Linked DNA regions of Homo sapiens: region 2 is linked to region 1. Evidence: fine-mapped expression QTL. A gene starts in region 1. The other region holds a variant in brackets. All regions are shown on one strand. Distances are between the middles of the regions.

Region 1 (10,229 bases):
AAGGTAGGGACTTTATTTTGCTCACTGCTATATCTCCAGCACTTAGGACAGTGCTTGCCACATAGTAGGCACTTAATAAATACTTATGGAATAGGCAAATGTTGTACAAACAGGTCTCAAGTTAGATTCTTACACTAACTGGTATGAAAGACAGATTAACTTTTGCTGCATCCAGAAGGCAAAAGGCAGACCAATGGGTAGAACGTTCATAAAGACACTTCTCACTCTACATATGAGAAAAGTTTGTAATATTTGAAATTTGCTAAAATGAAATTTTCTACTTCAAGGAGTAGTGAGGTGTGCTTGCTTTGGCAGTGCACATTCTGATGTGGAATGCTTTAAGAAGATTAGCGTGGCCCAGCAGACGAATGTGTGTAAGTCCATGAAACATTCCAGATCTTACTCCCCCAAGACCCTCGTACACAAAAACTTACTTGTGAATTCCCAACTTGGGAAGCTCACTGCCAAAAAAAAGAACACCAAGTGGAACACTGTGGACAGGAAGCACATTTGACAAGAGTGCTGTAGCCAGCAGGTGGAAAGTTGGAGAAGACAAGCTCGTGCTCTGGGGGTCCTAGTGCTGGTGAAGCTTGCAGCCATTTAGCCTGCTCTCAAAGGCTGGGCCCAAACAGGTTTGTGCAGAGGTGATGTGAAGCCTGTGTCAGGAGTGAAGCCCAAGCCTTCTCCTGTAAACTCCAGTGCATGAACCTGGAAGTCTCATGTAGTCTCAAAGACACATGTAGACTACAAAGAACCCTAGGCAGCCTCCCCAAGAGGTCCTTAGGGTTTTCTGCTCTCCATCCTGAACCTGACTAAGGTTTACCAAGATCACACTAAAAATCATCTTTTGCTGGTTGCACCTTTAGCTAATGAAAGGAAATACCCTAGGTCAGAAAAGAGAGAAACTGACTGCTTTTTTCAAATATTTCTGATAAGAATCTCAATGCCTAACTTTGATGTGGAAATATTTTTGTGTAACCTATAATGTAAGTATTGTTATGGGCATCACCATACTTAAAACTAATAATTCACTTAAAAGCACGATATTTCCGCTTCATTTTAATGTGTTTAGTTGACCCATACATAAGAAGGAGGTAAAATTAGAAAACAAGCACCTTTGCCAAATAGTTTATATTTTATTAACTTGAAATGCAAAAGACCAAAAGCAAAAACTAAATAAAATGGACTTGAATTGTTATTTATAGTTGTGGTGGGAAAAAGTATATCATTTGTTGATACTAGCCATCTCTGTGACTATATGTTGGGCTTATTATTTATTTATTTTTTATAATTTTAAATACAGTTTTTAATTGACAAATAATAATTGTATACATTTAGGGTACAATATGATACTTTGATATATATCTCCACTGTGGAATGATGAACTCAAACTAAGTAGCATATCCATCACCTCATATACTTATTTTTTGTGATGGGAACATTTAAAATTTATTATTTTACCAATTTTGAAATATATAAGAATTATTAACTACAATCGCCATTCTGTGCAATGGAGGCCTAAGCTTTAGTGATGTATGTTGCTTTAAATGAGCTACTTTCAGTTTAATGGAACTCTCCTGTACTGGCCAGCTATTCAACAAAATAAACAAATATGTACATAGCACCATCTCATAGGTTGTGTATTCCTCACATTCTAACACCTGTATAAGAAATACACACGGACTAACAAGCAGCACGTATTACTACAGTTTCATTCATTTCCAAAATTTCAATCACATACTATTTCTTATCCTCTCCAAAATCCATAAAAACACACACTTGGAATTATTACACTTAAATGCTTTCATTTGGTTAAAAAAAAGAAACGTTCTATATTTTCTATCTTGACTCTTAAAGCTTATCCAATAAATTCCTCACAGTACTTTTTCTATGTGAAGTTGGGAGATAAATAGTTTTGTCTAGTAAATATATAAAACAGATCACTGAAGAATTTAAAGAACTTTGTGTATCTCAGTTGGTTATTTTTTATTACAGATTTTTGGTAATCAATCATATTTATCCTCCTATAAATCATATTTAAACCAGGTAAACTTTATGAGAAATTATATGTAAACCTCAAAATTATTGATGGGCTCTTTTTAGAAAACAGCAACAGCAACCAAACTCAGCTACCACCCACCGTTCCCCTGAGTAAAGCAAAGGAAATAAAATCATTCCAATCCACATCTTATTCTACTCACAGATATTTTCTAAGTTATTCACACTGAAATGAGACTATTCTTCCAATGCTTATACCAGAATCAGTGCTTACCCGTGAGAGAAACAAATCTGTTGGAAGACTTGGTTACTGAATATTGGAAGAAGGGGAATTTCAGGCATTTTCCCGTCCCCCTGTCACAGATGCCTGACTGGCAGTTGCAGGTCTCTCTGCAATCCATCCCGAAGGTGCCGTAGGGACAGTCTGGGGACAAAGGAAAGGTTGGAGAGGACGCTGCTTGTTGTAAATACGTCTCCATCCTAACAGCCCTGGGTGCATAGCCTTGCGATTTGAACCAACCTCATGAACCTTGACTGTAAAGTAAAATCCAATTCTCCAAACCCAGGATTTGAAAGTTGAAACTTTGAGTCATAAATATGAAATCACACATTAAGAACAGATAATGGATGCCTCGGGCTTAGTGTTGTGATGTAAAGTTAAGTTGAAGACAGCTACACACAGCCAGTCTCCTTGGACCAGTCTTCATTCTGGTGATGTTCTGCTTAGATACCAATAAATTCTCACAGATGACCTCTGTAACAGCTCAGCAAAGGTGGGAAATTGAACAGACATATATGCATCAGCTCCTCAAAGAGTTTTTAAAATGTGATGCTATCTTTGAATCTACTGTATTCACAGATAATTTACTATTTTAAGTGTATAGGAAAGGGCTTCAAACTAACCAGGGAGAGAGCTATCATCCTAGCTCACCATGAAGCAATCAATCTTCCATCTGCTCCAACCCTTATCAAGTTCCTTATTTGTCGAAACGGCATGTCATACAACTTGCCTGACTCCCTCAGTAGTTAAGAGGGCTCCCTAGTAAAATCCTCTGCAAGGCTAACATGCAAGATGCTAAATGAGCAAGAAAGCTCAGGGCTTATACACCCTGAGGGTTTGTACACCTACCAAGAACTAGAAGCTTTTAGACCTCCAGTGCTTACACTTATGCCAAAACATCCTACATTGAAATAAAGAGGACAAAGTCGTTTATTTAAAATGCATAAAATTATTTAAAATGCTGTTTTTAGGATAAACAGCATCTCAGTAGACTAACCAACCTTTAAAAGCCAGCAGAATAGATATAGAATATTCTCTTGTTGTGAAAATACCTTGTAAATGTACAATCACAGGTGGGTAAAGAACAAATTGTGAGCCATCTGAGTCTCTAGCAGTCTAATACTCCACTAACTGACCAAGTAGATCATCAATGAGCTATCTTTTTTTAAAGAGATCTATGAGTGCTCTTTTCAATATGGTTCAGATCACAGAGGAACCTGGTTTTGAACACTGTTCTCTTTGCTGGGAAGAAGAGATCTTAAAAAGGGATCCTGCAAAGGCCTGTTCCAGAAAAGCACACAGGATTAGGATTTGACTGTGCCTGCAGCGATATTGAAAACTAAAACTTTAGCCAAATTCCCAGAGATACTTCTAGTGTATCCCCTGATGTACTGAACAGTGCTGGGCAGATAGTAAGTGTTCATTAAATATGTGTTGGCTGCTGATTGTTAATCTGGGCAAGATGTTCACAGACATCTGAATATTTAGAAGACATTTGGATACGCAGCTGAAGTTTACAGTTTTCACGTGGATGTTCTTTTAAAAAGCTGAAGAAGGGAGATGATTGCCAAATGTATTATCTCTATCTCGAGTTGCTAAGGCTCACAAAGTCTCCTATTTCCAGCAGAGAGAAAAATGCTTAAAACTAGATTCATCAGCAACCTGAAGAAAGCCAAAAGAAGCAATCTTAAAGATCTTTTTAGTATCTTGATCATTCAGTAGAATACTACAGTGCTAAAGACTCCAGATGCCACACAGCTTGTTTCTTTGCCCATATGTAATGTACATTTACAATCACATGTACAAAGGCATATTATGCCAAGAGAAAAAGCAATCCACTGCATATACATGCTATATCATAAGTATGATTGTGTTAACCACTTCCTCCCTAATTTCCTTATGTGAAGTACTGTTTTCTTGGTCAATAAGCCCCATAATTTACAAAATATACAGATCCTATTCAGTTGAAAGAAACATGCATATGTGTTCACCAAACAAAATATTTTCTCAATATTCTATTTCTTATTGTATATAAACAAAAATAAACTAAGCAAAAAATAAAACTCTCCTAATACTTTAAGAATTTGTTTTTTTAATTTTGTATGTCTTGCAAATTAAAAGATGATTAATTTATACATTATATGTCTAAGAAGTAGGAGAATTAATGAGATTAGCACAATACTGGATAAATATTATTCATAAAAAATGTATTAAATACATAAAACATAATAATTATTTAGAAATTTCTCAGTCCTTTTTATAATTTTGAAAGCTTCCTGGTATTACACAACTGATGGATGGGGTTATAGCATGTGTTGCTTCTTAATAATAGCTCTTCATAATAAGATCATGAGATATCTATACGTAGAGTATTTTTAAATCATCATTCTTTTTATTCTAAACATTTTTAAAATGTTAAATATTTTAAACTAGTTACTATGTTTAAAATAAATTCTACAAATGCTTAACTACATTATTTAGCTAAAATTTCAACCGACGAAGTTTTTCTTTAAGTGTACAAGTGGTCAACCTCATTCTTTACAGACTTCCAGTTTTTATTTTTCTCTATTGTTATTTTTCCTTGTCTTAACACCATCTGCTATTTTTCCAGATGACCAAAACCTTTATAAAGTCAGATGAGGTTTGTTTTATGCTTCAGGGGACCCTCTTTGAAGAGTGAGTTATTTTGTTAGATGACTTAAGCTCACTCTATTCCATAAAGTGCATTTGTGTTTATCAGAAATATTTGATCTTGAGAGTGGCCCTCCATCCTGTGGACCCTTTCAAGATCAAAGAATCACTAAATCTGGGGGCTAGAAACCATTCCAAGAGGTTATCTAGTGCAGACCTTTGTAATCGCTGCCTCGCAGAGGAGAGAGCACCTAAGCCATCCTTAACAGATTACCTGTCAAGTTTCTAAAGTTTTCCAGAAAAGGAGCCAACACAATCTTCCATTGCAGCTTTCTTTTTGCGATCTCCTAAGGCAACGAGTAAAATGCCACACTTCTTTCTGTGCCTTCCTGCACACTGGTTTCAGTTGCTACTTGGAGCTATCCTTCAGTCTCTACCCATGACAATACCTGTGTGGTGCCTTGTCAAGAATCCACCTGCCTTTTCCCTCTTACTCTTGAGGAGCAAAGCCACCTCACCTCCCAAGCTGGCTAAAAGCTCTCAGCATGCCCCGGGAGGGGAGAGGTAAGGGGTCACTCTTTACCTTTGCAGATACCAAACTCTTCACCAAAAGGATCCTCCCCATTAGAAGGCTGACACCTCAGCCCCGGGCCACACTTCATGCCATCCATGCCTGAGACTGTGCGGTAGCAAGTTTCTCCCCGCCCTGCAGCGCACACTCGGCAGCAGCCACAGTCGTCGAGCACTGTCCTCTTGCAGCGCGGGCTGCTTTTGCACTCACTGCTGTCACAGTGTTGAGGGCAGTCCACCGCATAATTATTGCTCCAGGCGGCCACCAGGTGTGCAGGCACGAGGAGCGTGGTCAGCAGCAAGACGCTCTTCATGTTTCCCAGCTGCCTCCGGCTCGGCTCTCCAGTCGTGGTCTTTGCTGGTGGGAAGCAGCCGTCCAAACTGGTAGCTGAGCCTCTGCCTACACGTTTATGAGTTTTATACACTGGGTTGCCCGCATGCTTTCCCGTCATCAATTTCCTCAACCCAGCAGCAGCGCTGTCCTCCTGCCAGGCTCTCTTGTTTTGGTTTATGAAATCCAGGATGAAGGCTGGATTAACACGCTGCTGCCATCCAGGAATTGAAAAGCCCAAGCTGATGTCATCTGTTATGTTTAGATGGTTGTTTTGCATGAGGACTGAAAAACTCACTCACATCCGTCTCAAGGGCTCAAGGACGTCTGTGAAGGAGGGATAAAGAAGGTTGCACACCCTCCTTCAGGACGGGAATTGTTCTGACCCTGGCATATCACTTGAGGTGTAGCTTTGTCTCAGAGCCTCTGTAGTCAGGAGGAAAATGATATCAACATGAATCATCAGGACCGAAGAAGCTTCTTCAAAAAAAATAATAAACATTTGGTATTTCCCCTCAACAAATAGCTATGAGATCATTTGAAAGAAGAAAGGGTTATATTGTGTCTTTTCAATACTTAGAAGAAAGAAAATATTTTGATAGGGCTATTTTTTAAGACCCTCTCTTCCTTCCTCTCACCCCTCTCCTCAAATGTTATTTCTAAAGCAATTCATGTTACATATATCTAAGCCTATTGTGGATATAGCTGTGCTTCCAGTACAATGTGGAACTGCCTCTGAGAATTTCTTTTAAAATCAATACAAAAAGCCACAAGAGAGGTAAGATCCTTTCGGCACTGCTTCTGGGTTACTCAATTCTGGAAAAACTTATCAGTTGGACTTCTGATCCAAAACTTCCTCAGGGGAAGGCTCATCCATCACTAAGTCTGCTTGTCCAATGACGGAGTCCACCCAGAGCCCTTCCCCTCACCTCCTGGCATCTATCAGAGCCCTCACTAAAAACTGCCAAGCGCGGCAGCCAGCCCAAGGCAACAAGTGGCTCAGCAGGAAAATCAGAACACAGCCCCCAAGAAACAAGTCACAGGGAAGGGAAACATTACCCCTCAGGAAACAAGGTCTGCATGCTAAGAGGGTTACCGTGCCTAGGTCCCTCTGGGAAAACAGAGTAGCCCTCTTAAAATATCAACTGTGCCAGGGTCTTATTAAGTAAGGTTAAAGAGGAGAGAGGGGAGTTCTTACACCAACCACATGCCGAATTCCATGCCCCCACCTCACTTGTCAAAAGAGATATAGACTCACTGTCACTTAGTAAATAACAACCCAGTAAAGTGGGTAATTCTTGGTCTGTCACAAATGAGCTGTAAGAAATTCACAGGACTTCTCTTGGCCTCAGCTTCCTCTTTTGAGAATTGATGGTGTTAGGCTACCTGACCTCTAAAATTCTTGTTTCCCATAGAAGATGAGGCAGAGCGGGCATTGGATGTAACTTGAAGATCGGCTTTTGCAAATGCAATTTTAGGGGGACACAGGGAGTAAATTCAGAATACAGAGAATTGAGGCAGTAGGAAATGAAAGCAAGAGTTTTAGCTTTCAAATTTTCCAAATTTTTCATGACAATCCAATTTGAAATACTCTATCTCCCCAGAAGCACTTACTTAGCAGGTGGCACACTCTGATGTTTTCAGTAATGGGTAATATTTGTTGAGTTAATAGCTTAAACACTTTACATGCATTAACTCATTTGCACCTCATCACAATATTATGAAGTGGCTGCTATTATCATGCTTATTTTTTAAAAGAAGAAACTGAGTAAGAAAGAGGTTAATTTGCCTAAGGTCCCTATATTGAAGGGATGGATGTTAGTCTAATGTCAGAGCCACATATTCTATTGCCTATTACAATACATAATTGTGCTTTCATGGCCAATAGTTCCAATGGCCTAGGTCGCAATTTAGGCTGACCCTAGAAAATGTCCCTTGTTACTGAACACCACTTTCTGAGGAGTAGTTAACTGGAATAGTGGTTAATAATAATATCTAACCTTTACAGAGATCTGACTGTGTGCCAGATGCCATGCTAAGCAGTTTATGTAGATTACCACATTTAACTTTCAAAACAACCTCAAGAGCTAGGTGCTATTCTTATCCCCATCTTAGATATGAGAAAACTGAGGCCTAGAGAGGGTAAGTAACTTGTCCATCATCACACAGTTAGCAAATGGTGAAGCCAGGACTCCAGCCCTGAGACCAACAAGCTCTGGAGACTGGATTAAGGATTGTAAAATCAAATACATACAGGTGCCAAACAGGTGCCCAAGGTGGGTGACATGGTAAGCTATACTAGATGTAATACAGAAGGAATGGAGTGGATTTCGTCCTCCTGAATAGCACATAAAGACATGAAACTCTTCCACTATGGAAGATAAAGGGAAACCAAATTGATAATACCTTCAGTAAATGACAACTAAACAAATGTAAGTTGAGAGTACCAAATCCAAATAGTAAACCAAACTACAATGCACAGGTAAGTGCAGAAAATATGCCCAATAGAGTTCACCAGTGGTGGAACTATCTCAATACACAGTGCCTAACAACTCATTTTAGGGGAACCTTCAATCCCTCCAAGACCCAACAAAAACCATTTGTCCCAACACAATCCCTGTAAGATTTTTATCTAGTGATTTCTGTCTTCCCCAGAGCCTTGAGCCCAGATCAATGAATTCCATTAGGAAAGTTAGCAATGACCACAAAGGGTTAGGAAATGGGAGCACGAGCAACCAAGGAGCCAACTCTAAGCTGCATTAAAAAGCAATAAGATGATGGCAGAGCTGTTGATAGTGAGTGCATGAGGTCCACCCATTTCACTTGCTTTGTGCTGGGGACTGGAACATCTCTCATCTTGCTCTGCCTGTATATCAGTTGTCAAGTCAGAGTGAGAAAGGGCAAGAGGAATTGCACAAGATTTTCACAACTCCTAAAATGTAAGTTCAAACTAAGGTGGGTCAAACCATACCATCTGTGGATCCAAATGTTGCAGCATATGGTGTTTTGCAATGGGGGCAGAGAAATGATAAAACCAAATATCTATTTAACCCAGTATACCCTGTATACTTAAAATGCCACTTTGATTTTTTTCTTAAAGCTGGTATTGTGTTAGGAAAATAAGCTTTGGTAATGTGCATTAATATTTTGTGTTTATTTTGTACATTATGATTGCTTCTAACCAAATAACAAGGATTTTTTTCTGGATAGGTAAAAGTAGTCCAGTGGAAAGGCTCTGGGCAGATCCCAGACTCTCAGAAGGTGGTTTATGGTAAAGCGAATTATACCGTACTTACTGTGCCTTCCTAACAAACCAGCTCTACCAGAGAAGTCTGGTTTAAATTGAATTACAAAGGCAGACTTGAGGGCATAAAGTTTGGAGGAGCAAGTGGAGACATTTACATGCAGATTTTAGGTGATTTGGTTTTTAGGTTAGTTTTGGTTGTGGTTTTTGATACCATCTGAAAGTCTTCCTGCTTTGACACTAGCTGATAGCAATTTTGCATGTGCCTACTGCAAGGTCTAGCCCACAGCAGGAGCTTAATACTTAATAAACACATAAAAGGAACCAACTGTTTCCCAGAATCATCTTCAGATGATAGTAAGTTAAACGGGCATCAATGTGTTCCCTTTCTTTCTCTTTCCACCAGGAGAAGCAAAGTGAGGCCCAGATTCTAGGGCAGGCTAGGTTAAGCTGCAGAATGTGTTTACTTGTGGGAATGAGGTAGAGGTGTCAAGAAACAGCACATCCAATCCAAGAGACATCGAGGATTGGATGGAGCCTGAGCAAAGACTGTAGTCCCATTGCGGCAGTTCCTTCACAGCTAACCAAATTTGTCCTGTTGACCTTGGGCTTGGCAATATCACATCCACCCTGGAAAGTTCATGGGAGCCCCTCATAGCCAATAGAACTTGGTGAAATACTTCTGCCAAACTGGCTGGGATTCACGGCAGTCACAGGTCAGCTGTCAAAGCCCAGGGCCTGAGGAATCTTCCCAGAGCCTCCTGCCCTGAGTACAGTTTGCCTAGAAACAGCTTTACCACTGCCAAGATATGTGATCTTAGGCAAGTCACATGCCACATACCTTAGACCTCTCCTTTCTCCTCAGTACCTCAATAATAAGAGGGCCAAACAGGGCAACAGATATGAAACCATCGTGACTATTATTATCAAGCGTCTGATTTCTGAAGATTGGCTTCATTCTTTAAATGTGATCTTATGTCTTGGAGCAAATATTTTCCCAAAAGAAATCTCTCTAATTCTTTAAGTTTCTATTTTTAATAAAGACAATTTTAATAGCAAAGTGGAATTGAATGTACCAATATATGATTTACAGGCAATTTTCAAAAACTACACCTGCTTAGAAGAGCAAAGTGAAATGCATCTGCTTTAATTAGGCTTCTTGCCCATATGGGGGC
Region 2 (9,898 bases), 41 kb after region 1:
AAGGCATACAAAATACACACCCAATTTTTATTAGATTGGACAAATTTTATTTCATTAATAAAATAAATTAATACAGTGCCATGTTAAGTCGCTGTTACAGTTTCTAAACTCTGGCTCTCAATTTCTGTCCCCATCTTGCTCCAAATCGGTAACAAAGAGGTTCGGAGACTGGCACAGGTCTGCGGGCCATGCTTTGATTGGCATGGCTCTAGGGGGTGTGGCTTATAAATCTGACAGAGCAGGTGTCTGGGCTGTTGAAGAAAGGCAGTCCAAGGGATAGAACCACACGAGGCCTTTGGAGCAGTGGCACAGCTGTTCTATAAGGGTCTCCTGAAACACAGGAGAAGCAGAAACAAAACATCTCTAAGAGCAGCAAGAAAGACAGCTAAACACAGCAAAGAAGAGCCACAAGGCTATGACGTGTGAAGCCAGCCCTCCTCTGAGCACAGCCTTGCACTTGCTCAGTCCGGTACAGTTGCTGTAAAGCCATCCAAAGCAAACATGGCCCTCCCTGCAGCAGACTCAACAGAACAAAAACCAACACCCAGAAATAAATTAGATCGCCGAGCTCATCATGTTACACAGCCCACTGTTCTCAAATCCAGAATCGTGAATATAATAACAAATGATACTATTAACTGGCAAATCGGTCTAAAGCCAAAACCAAATAACTCATTACTATTAACCAACATGATTCTCAGAATTTTCTAGGTCAGCTACAAGAAAGAGTTATGAGACTCTTCCCAACTGAACTAAATCTCACCCATGTCTAATTACACGCAGTGTGTATGGCTAAATCCTTTTTCTCTTCTGCACAGCTAGCTTGTGTCTCAGAGCCCCTAAACCCCCAGGGACTTCTCAAAGGAGGCAGGCATGTAGCCAGGTTGAAAGGAACATAGAGCCGGGAGCCAGCACATAGGAGCTTAAGGGCCACCTGCTAGCTCGGTAATCTCAAGCAAGTCCCTGAATTTCAGTTTATTTATCCATAAAACAAGACTAATGACAACCACTTCCCTGGAAATACAGCTAAAAACGTTCAGCAATTTGTACAACGCTATGTGGACATTAATCCTTACTACTCAGAAATAAGCAGCTGAGAGATGTTTGTAACCATTCCCATTTCCCCCGCCACACACACACACACACACACACACAAAGCTTCGTCCTTTACAATTTATTTCTTCCTTAGAGTTTGGATCACTTCTACCTGTCACACACCATCTTCCTTACGATCCCAGCATCACTGGGATGTAGCAGGGAACTGACGCCATCCTGTCTGCCTTCCAATGTGGAACAATGGCACACAGTAGAGCATCCAAGGTACATCAACAGTGACAAAGATGACTTGAAAATTCACAGGGACATTTGAGTGGGAGTAATAAGTTTGGTTTATTAAGCTTGTGGCTTTTCTTAATCTGGCTCCTCCTTATCTCACCTTCTGCTCTGACAGGAAGTCACTGCTCTGCGTTGGTTTTGTTCATTCTGTTTAACATGTAGAAAGCTTTACTGTTGCCACACACCTGTACAAGGAAAGCAGGTTTTTTATAAAATTCTGTGTTCTGGGAGGGTACTCATTCACATACAACTTAACATACAGGGAGGTCAGGCAGGTGATTTGGTCTAGGTCATAAGCTGTGTTGCCTTGGGCAAATTACTTAGCCTCTTGGAACTTATTTCTTCCATTGTAACATAAGTTGTCCTGCTTTCCTCAAAGACATAGACATGAAACCATAAATGATCATATAAAAAGAATTTTGGAAATAAGGTATTTTACTTATATATTATTAAGTTATAATGAATAATACATAATTATAGTATTATTTTTTATTATTCCTACTCTTTGTGCTAGAAAACAATTTGAAAGGAGTCTCTTGCAATCTGCCGAGCATAATAGCTCTGGATTTTAATTCTCCTTTCTAAAATGAATGGAAGATAAAATGCATACCTCTTAAAAGAAAGATCTGTTGATTTAATGCAAATTTTGATCAGTGTTACTAGGAAGTGATTGGCATTCTGATGCGTGATCTGTTTGTATTCATTTTATATTTGCACTGCTGATCAGTGTCTGGCACAAACAGAATCTTGTAGAATCTTGAGTCTAATACCTTTTGTATTGAAGGCCTGGCAATGCATTGTCATCTGTTCCTGGGAAGAATTACAAAATGCAGTCCTTTATTTTTAAAAGACATTATTATTAAGTCCCTGGAAAAACACATGGCCATTTTCAATTAAAAATGAGTAAAAGAGAGACTCTGAATCAAAAATAGTTGCCAATGTTCACCTTTAACAACATTATGAAATCTCACAAAAATGTAACTAAAATTTAACCAAATTTGGGCAAACTTAGAGAAACGACATGAGTAGGGATGTTTGCTGCAAAACATATGGTTTTCTCTGGTTGGTGCTCAGGCTTTAGCTAAGCCACATTGTGAAGTAACCATAATCTGTGCAAGGTCCATGTCTCTCTTCATCATAAATCTATGTCCAAATGAAAAAGAGAGAAGAATGAAATATGATAGGCACCATTTTGTGCCAGGAAAAATAGTAAGTATTGCTTGAGAGCAATGGACATCTTTGAACTCTGTCTGCAACTTCATTACATTCTTATGGCATGGATATTTTTCATTTATAAATATTATATACACATATAGTATAAATTTTCTTTATAGCATAAGTACTCTGATACAGGTATTAGAGATGGTATCTCCAGATATGAGTTCTTTATGGCATACATACCTCTCCCAAAAAAGTGCTAAAAGCAATTAGCCGGATGTGGTGGTGGGCGCCTGTAGTCCCAGCTACTCGGGAGGCTGAGGCAGGAGAATGGCGTGAACCCAGGAGGCAGAGCTTGCAGTGAGCCGAGATCGCGCCACTGCACTCCAGCCTGGGCGACAGAGAGAGACTCCGTCTCAAAACAAAACAAAACAAAAAAGTGCTAAAAGCACAGACCTGAAAGTCCCCAAACTGATACATAACGTTTACACCTAGGTGTGAAAAAAAATCTTACCCCTAGAGCACCTGTGGTGAGAAAGTCAAAACTTACAAGAACAAAACTCAGTCTTCAGAATCTTCTTCCTTCATCACAGGATCAACACATTTCATCTGGGCTTCTTAAATCTAAATCTTTAAAATGACTAAGTTTTCTTCCTTTTCTCTGTTTTTCCTAATAGTTGGGGCTTATATGACTCATGTGTGTAAGTATCTCCTATATCTACATGTAAACATTAAATGAATTTCTACTGACTATATTGTTATATTATAGATGAAAATTATTTTCACAATCATTCCTATCTTTCTGAACTGTAATGTATTATACAAATTTTTCATCAGTAAAATTATTGTAGCTTTTAGGTAGGGTTATTGTTGTTTTTTAAGCTTTGAAAATAATATAGTGACTGTCATTGGAAGAATTACATGAAACAGTAGTTTAGATCTTTTGTGTGAAACCTTTTGGTCTACTTTTGTAGGTTTCAATATGGAAATTATTGGAGGGAAAGAAGTGTCACCTCATTCCAGGCCATTTATGGCCTCCATCCAGTATGGCGGACATCACGTTTGTGGAGGTGTTCTGATTGATCCACAGTGGGTGCTGACAGCAGCCCACTGCCAATATCGGTGAGTCCTCCACACTTTTCCAGACATGTGTTTTTTCTGAAAGTTATTATAGGTACAAGAGAAGCTTACCTCTCCTGAATGAGAATTTGATCTACTGTTAGCTTCTGTGGTTACTGACCAACTGGTGGCGTTTATTTACCTTCTTCCACATCCACGCTTTCTGTCTTGGGTTTTCCTTTTCAGAGAGAACTGAGCTGCTTTTCCCAGGCAAGACATTAGACAAATTCAAGTCCTCTGTATAATGCAGGGAACACAGCAACAGTAATACTTGAAGCAGCAGTACTCTTGACCTTGTTAGATCACACTGCTCAAAAGGAAATCAGACAACCTGAGCTTGCTCTGTGCTCTGAGCTTCCCCATTTTACAAAGGGGTAATAATCATATCATACCTGCTTTGTGGGTTTTGAGAATTAAATAGTATCTGTTTAAGTATTTTAGCATGCTTGGCACATTTAGTAAGCACAAAAAAATTGCAGCTATTATCATTAGTATTATACGCATGAGAAGCCTACTTTGCCACTCCTAACAGTAGCTACCTAACAGTAGCTACTCACCACTTACAACTTTCCTAGGTGGAAAAAAACAAGTTATTGATGACTTCTAGAAAGAGAAAGATAATGAGAGAGTTATTTTCTAGGATACTTAGAATGAAAGCTTTTCTGAAGACAGAGTAAAACCTTCCAAAGTCCATTTCAGCCTAGGATTCTCTTACTTCAGCTAATAAAGCACAAAACCCCTCTTGGGATGCTGCAACCATCACAAAAGGAAATGCCAGTAGAAAACTAATTTGGTATTTGTTGTTTTGTTTGTTTGCTTGGGTTTTTGGTTTTGTTTTTTGTTTGTATATATGTTTCCTTATGTTTCTTACCTAATAAGCTGAAATGGAGCCTTCTCCTTTTCTTTCACTTAAAGATCTCTCTTAGCTGTAATGGTTTGCTCTCCAGGCATTGTCTATATCTAAACAGAACAATTGAATTGATTTGCTTTTCTATGCTTTGGGGGTTTTGTCTGATTACCCCATTTAAATGGAACTGTTTGATCACAAATTGGAAGTTTTGAAGCCTGCAAACTGGGAGATCTTCTGCTATCTCTAAATAGCAAGCCACTGATTTCCAATTTAATATGGTTACTTCATTTACACAGGGTTCTTGCCCTCATAGAAATCACACTCTCATCCCCATCACTTCTCTCTTCTCCAGGGCATTTGCCCCCTCGAGATCAGAGAGACAGAGTGGGGAACTGTCAGCGAATGTTCATTTGATGCAAAATATGCACATCTTCAAATATGCTCATAATACACATTCAAATGGTCTATAACCTCCCCAGACACAGAGCTTGACTTCTAAATGTTCAACAAACTTTGGATGGAAAGAAAGAAATACACTGAAAGATCTTTCTTTCTTTCTTTCTTTCTTTGGCTAGGCCTGAAACATGGTGTATGAAAAAGTGCTTCACTAGCCATAAAGTGTTATAGGAAATTAAATAATATCACTAAGTTGAATTTTAAATTTTGTCAAGTGGATTTAACTCACGAGAAGCGGATTCCCAAATTGGGGAAAGAGATTATTGACAAAAGACTGGAGAGAGGTCTTGGAGTTTTTTGTGTTTTGTTTTTTTTTTCTTAAAACAAACTATTGCTAAATATCATTTTAAATGGCTGGGGTATAAAGAACTGCAAAATATGTAGATCAAATTTCCTCTACAGGACACTTGGGTGTAAAAAGTAGGCAGATCGGTGGTTGGAAAAATATTAAGCTTTATGAAATTCAAAATATTTACAAAATAGCTCAATGGTGGCTTCCCACAAATGTACTCCCCAGTATCCTGTGGGAATAGTTTG[C/G]CCCAAGCCTCTCTCTCAGCAAAATTTTGAAGAGGGCCAAACCTGGGAGTGCTCCCTTCTCACCAGCCATCCACACATCTCCTCCCTCAATATTCTGGCCCCTTTATTAGTTGCCATGTCAAATATAAAAGGAAATTGATAAAAAATGTCCTGTACAAACTTATTTTCAGCATTTTAACTTACCAGAAGCAAAACTCTCACCAGCTGTTGTACCCTGTTCTCCTGATTCTCTCCCAGGCCCCTCTCACAGAGCACTTCCTCCTGCCCCAACCTGCCTAGCAAGTTGTTAGATGGAACCTTCCACAGCCCCTTCCACATGGCCTCACTCCATCTCAAATGCTCAAGGCTCCTGGAACAAAATGGTTCAATGTTCAGGCTCTAGATTCAAGCCAACTGAGCTTTAATCCTGCCCGAATTTGCCTCCTGGAGGCAAAGGTCCTCAAGTTTATTCGTTTACCTGAACCTCAATTTCTTCATCTATAAAATGGGGATTGTCATAATACCTATCTCACCACGCTGTTGTGCGGTTTAAATGAGGGAAGCTTTGTAAAATGCTTAGCACAGAACACAAAGAACTTAATAGATGTTATCGAGTATTGTTATACAATTATCTGTGCCTTCCATGGTAATAACCAAGGAACTAATCTGATGTTGACGAGATAAGACTGGGAAGACCTCCCTCTCTGACAGCCAAGTTCTTCTCCCTCTCTCTTAGGCAAGAGAAATCTCCAAGACATAGGGACCCTGCCTTTGCTGCCAGACCTCAAGGGGCGGGTCTAAGCAGAACCACTGTTGAGTGTCCAGGCGCGCTGGCAGAGAAAAGAAGAGGCTTGAAGGGGGTTGGCACGGGGTTCAAAGAGGGATTGAGGAAAGAGCACTGGACTGGGAGTCACCAAAAGCCAAATTTGGGTCCTGATTCCCCTATTTATGAGGTGTGTCACCTTGGACCAGTCAGAGAACAATCTTTTACTGGTAAGGAATACACAGCCCGTCAGCTTTACCAGCCTTGAAAAAGGTTATTGTTAGGCTCAATGGAGACAATGTTTACAGATGTCTTCAGCAGACCCACTATAAGCCGCACTGTAGTTCTGCTCCATATATGAATCTCTTCCAGGAAAGCTCAGGGTGGGACTCCGGAAACCACATTTTAAACCAACACCTCCAGGTGATTCTGAAGCAAGTCTGAAGACTGCATTTGGGGAAATCCTGTGCTGTGCAACTGAAAAACACTGGCATTATTACTTCCTCTTTGTGTGAATTCAGACTTCAGTTTAGCTAAGGAGGTGGCATCCCAGAACTCAAGTAATTCCAGGTACCCTGTGGGCAGAAAATTTGACCTGAGTAGCACAGATTACAGTTGAAGGATATCTAGAAATTGAAAGGTCAGAAGGAATAATGGTCTGCTTGGGTTGTTTTTGGTCTTAACATGTCCCAGTGGAGACAAAAATAACCAAAACATTTCAAAGGCAATAACTAGCCGAGTAAATTAGTAAAAGACGAAAGAAACCCAGACATTTTTTCAGCATCCCTCCCTTAGTGAGAATCCACCCTCCATACCTCTCATTTGTACCTCATAGCCTTCTTTGTGTGAGTCATTTAGGCACGTGCCCACCTTTCTGTTAGAGCATTCATCCTGAAGATTTTTATGTCATCCTTCTCCTACAAAGTTTTGGGTTTAGTGGGTATGTTGAATTTGAATTCAAATCAATCCTAGGAAATCCAGTCCACATCCTATGAGAAATTTCCACCCGGTCCTGATTTTGCAATAGGCAAACTTTTCAACAAATAGAGCTGGAATTCCCAAAATAAATAAAAATAAACTCTTTTGGTAGAAACCAAAAAGTGGTCATTCCAGGCAGTCACAGCTCTGCCATAAGCAAACCCACTCTACCACAGGCATTTGCCATTTTCAAATCTGAAACAATCATGTCTTCCTTTTTCTGTATGTTTCTGTGCTCTTTGTAACTTTTATTAATCTTTATTAATCTATATGCATGAGTATGTGTGTTTTTACTGCAATCTACTTTGGTAGCTTTTCCAAGTAGCAAAGAAATAGTTACATGTAAACAAACAAATACAATTAAAAGATCTGAGGTGGACTTCATAAAGATAGACACTGTAATGGAATGTATCTGTAGTATACAAATGGCTCTACGGTTCTGCCAAAATCTCCAAAAAATTATTTCTACTTTATCACTGCTGTAAATGTAATTTTATCCAACAAAGAGTAAATCAGATCAATTGTGGCACTGTTGAAACACTGGTACTAGAACTGTGTATGACCAGAGATTTAAAAAGCAAACCTTGCCAGGCACAGAGACTCACGCCTGTAATCCCAGCACTTTGGGAGGCTGAGGCCAGTAGATCACCTGAGGTCAGGAGATTGAGACCACCCTGGCCAACATGATGAAATTCCGTCTTTACTAAAAATACAAAAATTAGCCAGGTGTGGCGGCACAAGCCTGTAGTCCCAGCCTCTCGGGAGGCTGAGGCAGGAGAATCGCTTGATCCTGGGAGGCGGAGGTTGCTGTGAGCCGAGATGGCGCCACTGAACTCCAGCCTGGGAAACAGAGCAAGACTCCTTCTCAAAAAAAAAAACGTTAAAAAAGAAAGCCAAAAAACAAACCTATTTCTTCACCTCACTCACCAGTTCGTATCCTCTAAATCTCCCCGATGGAATGGCTACTAACCTTAAAGTATCTTCATTTTAAATTAGCACTGTTTTCTTACCTTGAGGAAAGTTTTCCTTTCTTGTCCAAATCTTTGTTCTAATTGAGGGGACAGGACATATGGACATATCTGACTGTCATGTAATAGGCCTTACTTCCCCACATTGACCTGAGATGAAGTCTAGGCATGTGGGTGAGCAAGTGTAGGGTGGGGATCTTTGTGGTTTTTGTTTGTTTGTTTGTTTGTTTGTTTGTTTGTTTTTAAGAGATGGGGCCTTGTTCTGTCACCCAGGCTGTGACACTTCAGCCTCCAGCTCCAGGACTCAAGCAATCCCTCCTGCTTCAGCCTCTCAAACAGCTGGGACTGTAGGCATGCACCACCATGCCCAGCATGCACCAGTGTGCCCCTTAATGTTTTTTTAGAGATGGGGGTCTCACTGTATTGCCCAGGTTTCTCTCAAACTCCTGGCCTCAAATGATCCTCCCACCTCAGTCTCCCAAGTGGCTGGGATTACAGGCATGAGCCACCACACCTGGCTACCTTAATTATTAAAACACTTAATGTTGGGAAGATAAAAAAAGTTCTGGGGTTCTGGAGATGATAGTGGTGGATGAACAACAATATACATGTCCTTCATACCACCAAACTGTACATTAAAGAATGGTTAAAATGGTAAATTTTACCATTCTTATACCATTATGTATACTTTACCACAATAAACAAATTTTAATGGTAGTTGGTGTAAATCTCAAACTACAAACTCAAGGAATATAATTTGCTTTATTTTTACATAAATGAACATAATTTTGTTTTAAACTTGATCTAAGTCAATTAGGATTTCACTCCTTTTTCTTCCCCCAGTTGGATACAAGTTCTGATATTCTTTTGCAATGCCAGGGAATTGGTTTAGGGTGGGATTAAGGGCAAGTCATTTGGCCCTTAATATCAATTCATGCTGGGCTCCACTAAGACCTTTGTCACTCCACCTAATCTTAGGCAGGTTACCTTGGAGATAGCCCTTGTTTCTCTGTGTATACAACCCTCTCGACCATCACCACTCCCCACTGGGGGATTTGGAAATCATTCTGCTGCTTTCATTGTCTTTGCTTTTTTTAGGTTTACCAAAGGCCAGTCTCCCACTGTGGTTTTAGGCGCACACTCTCTCTCAAAGAATGAGGCCTCCAAACAAACACTGGAGATCAAAAAATTTATACCATTCTCAAGAGTTACATCAGATCCTCAATCAAATGATATCATGCTGGTTAAGGTAGGTAGTAGCATTGTCTTCCTTCTATTTTGTCAACATTTTTATACAGGATGGCTCAATTAGTTAAATCACCTACAAAATGCATTTTGCTAGCACCCTCCCCATGTTTGAGGTGATTATGATATATTTTATAAGGGCCCATGTTATTCCATATACTGTCTTGAAAGAAACAAGAATTTATCACAAATGCACCAGGGCTGTGTTTATACAAGGAAAAGCAACTCTGATACTCAACATATGTAGGAGGGGAACATCTTAACAGGCCCAAGGATCCACACTGAAAGCTTTTCTCCCAAATGCTTTTCTCATTAGCAAGTAAAAAAATACAACAGTTGTTTATACAACAGAGCCAACCAAGTGACTTCGGGGGCTCAGCAGTGAGTTACAGCTTAGTCTAGACCACACTTAATTTAGTCCGAACTTGGTCTAGACCATACTCAAGGGTCCTATCCGGCAGGAAGCAGCCCAGCCCTCAAAGTCATGACCTATGGATGTTATTCCACACA

Direction of the effects. Alleles are on the strand shown, and positions count from the first base shown. SD is a standard deviation of normalised expression in the study named.
For the expression in skeletal muscle of the gene that starts at base 5,869 in region 1, allele G in region 2 goes with a higher level than allele C (small effect, 0.40 SD a copy in GTEx).

Evidence for each region.
Region 2: its variant is fine-mapped to the expression of ESM1 in skeletal muscle (GTEx, PIP 0.96).

The regions. Positions count from the first base shown.
Region 1 is chr5:54,979,725-54,989,953 of GRCh38, forward strand. ESM1 (endothelial cell specific molecule 1) reads right to left here and starts at 5,869. Exons shown (of 3, transcript NM_007036.5): 1 at 5,493-5,869; 2 at 2,273-2,422. The coding sequence starts at 5,793.
Region 2 is chr5:55,021,193-55,031,090 of GRCh38, forward strand. GZMK (granzyme K) reads left to right here and starts at 3,064. Exons shown (of 5, transcript NM_002104.3): 1 at 3,064-3,194; 2 at 3,468-3,615; 3 at 9,242-9,392. The coding sequence starts at 3,131. It overlaps LOC102467081 (a long non-coding RNA gene), which reads right to left and starts at 2,977. Exons shown (of 3, transcript NR_104662.1): 1 at 2,737-2,977; 2 at 1,436-1,520; 3 at 107-330. The variant C/G (reference allele first, on the strand shown) is at 5,456.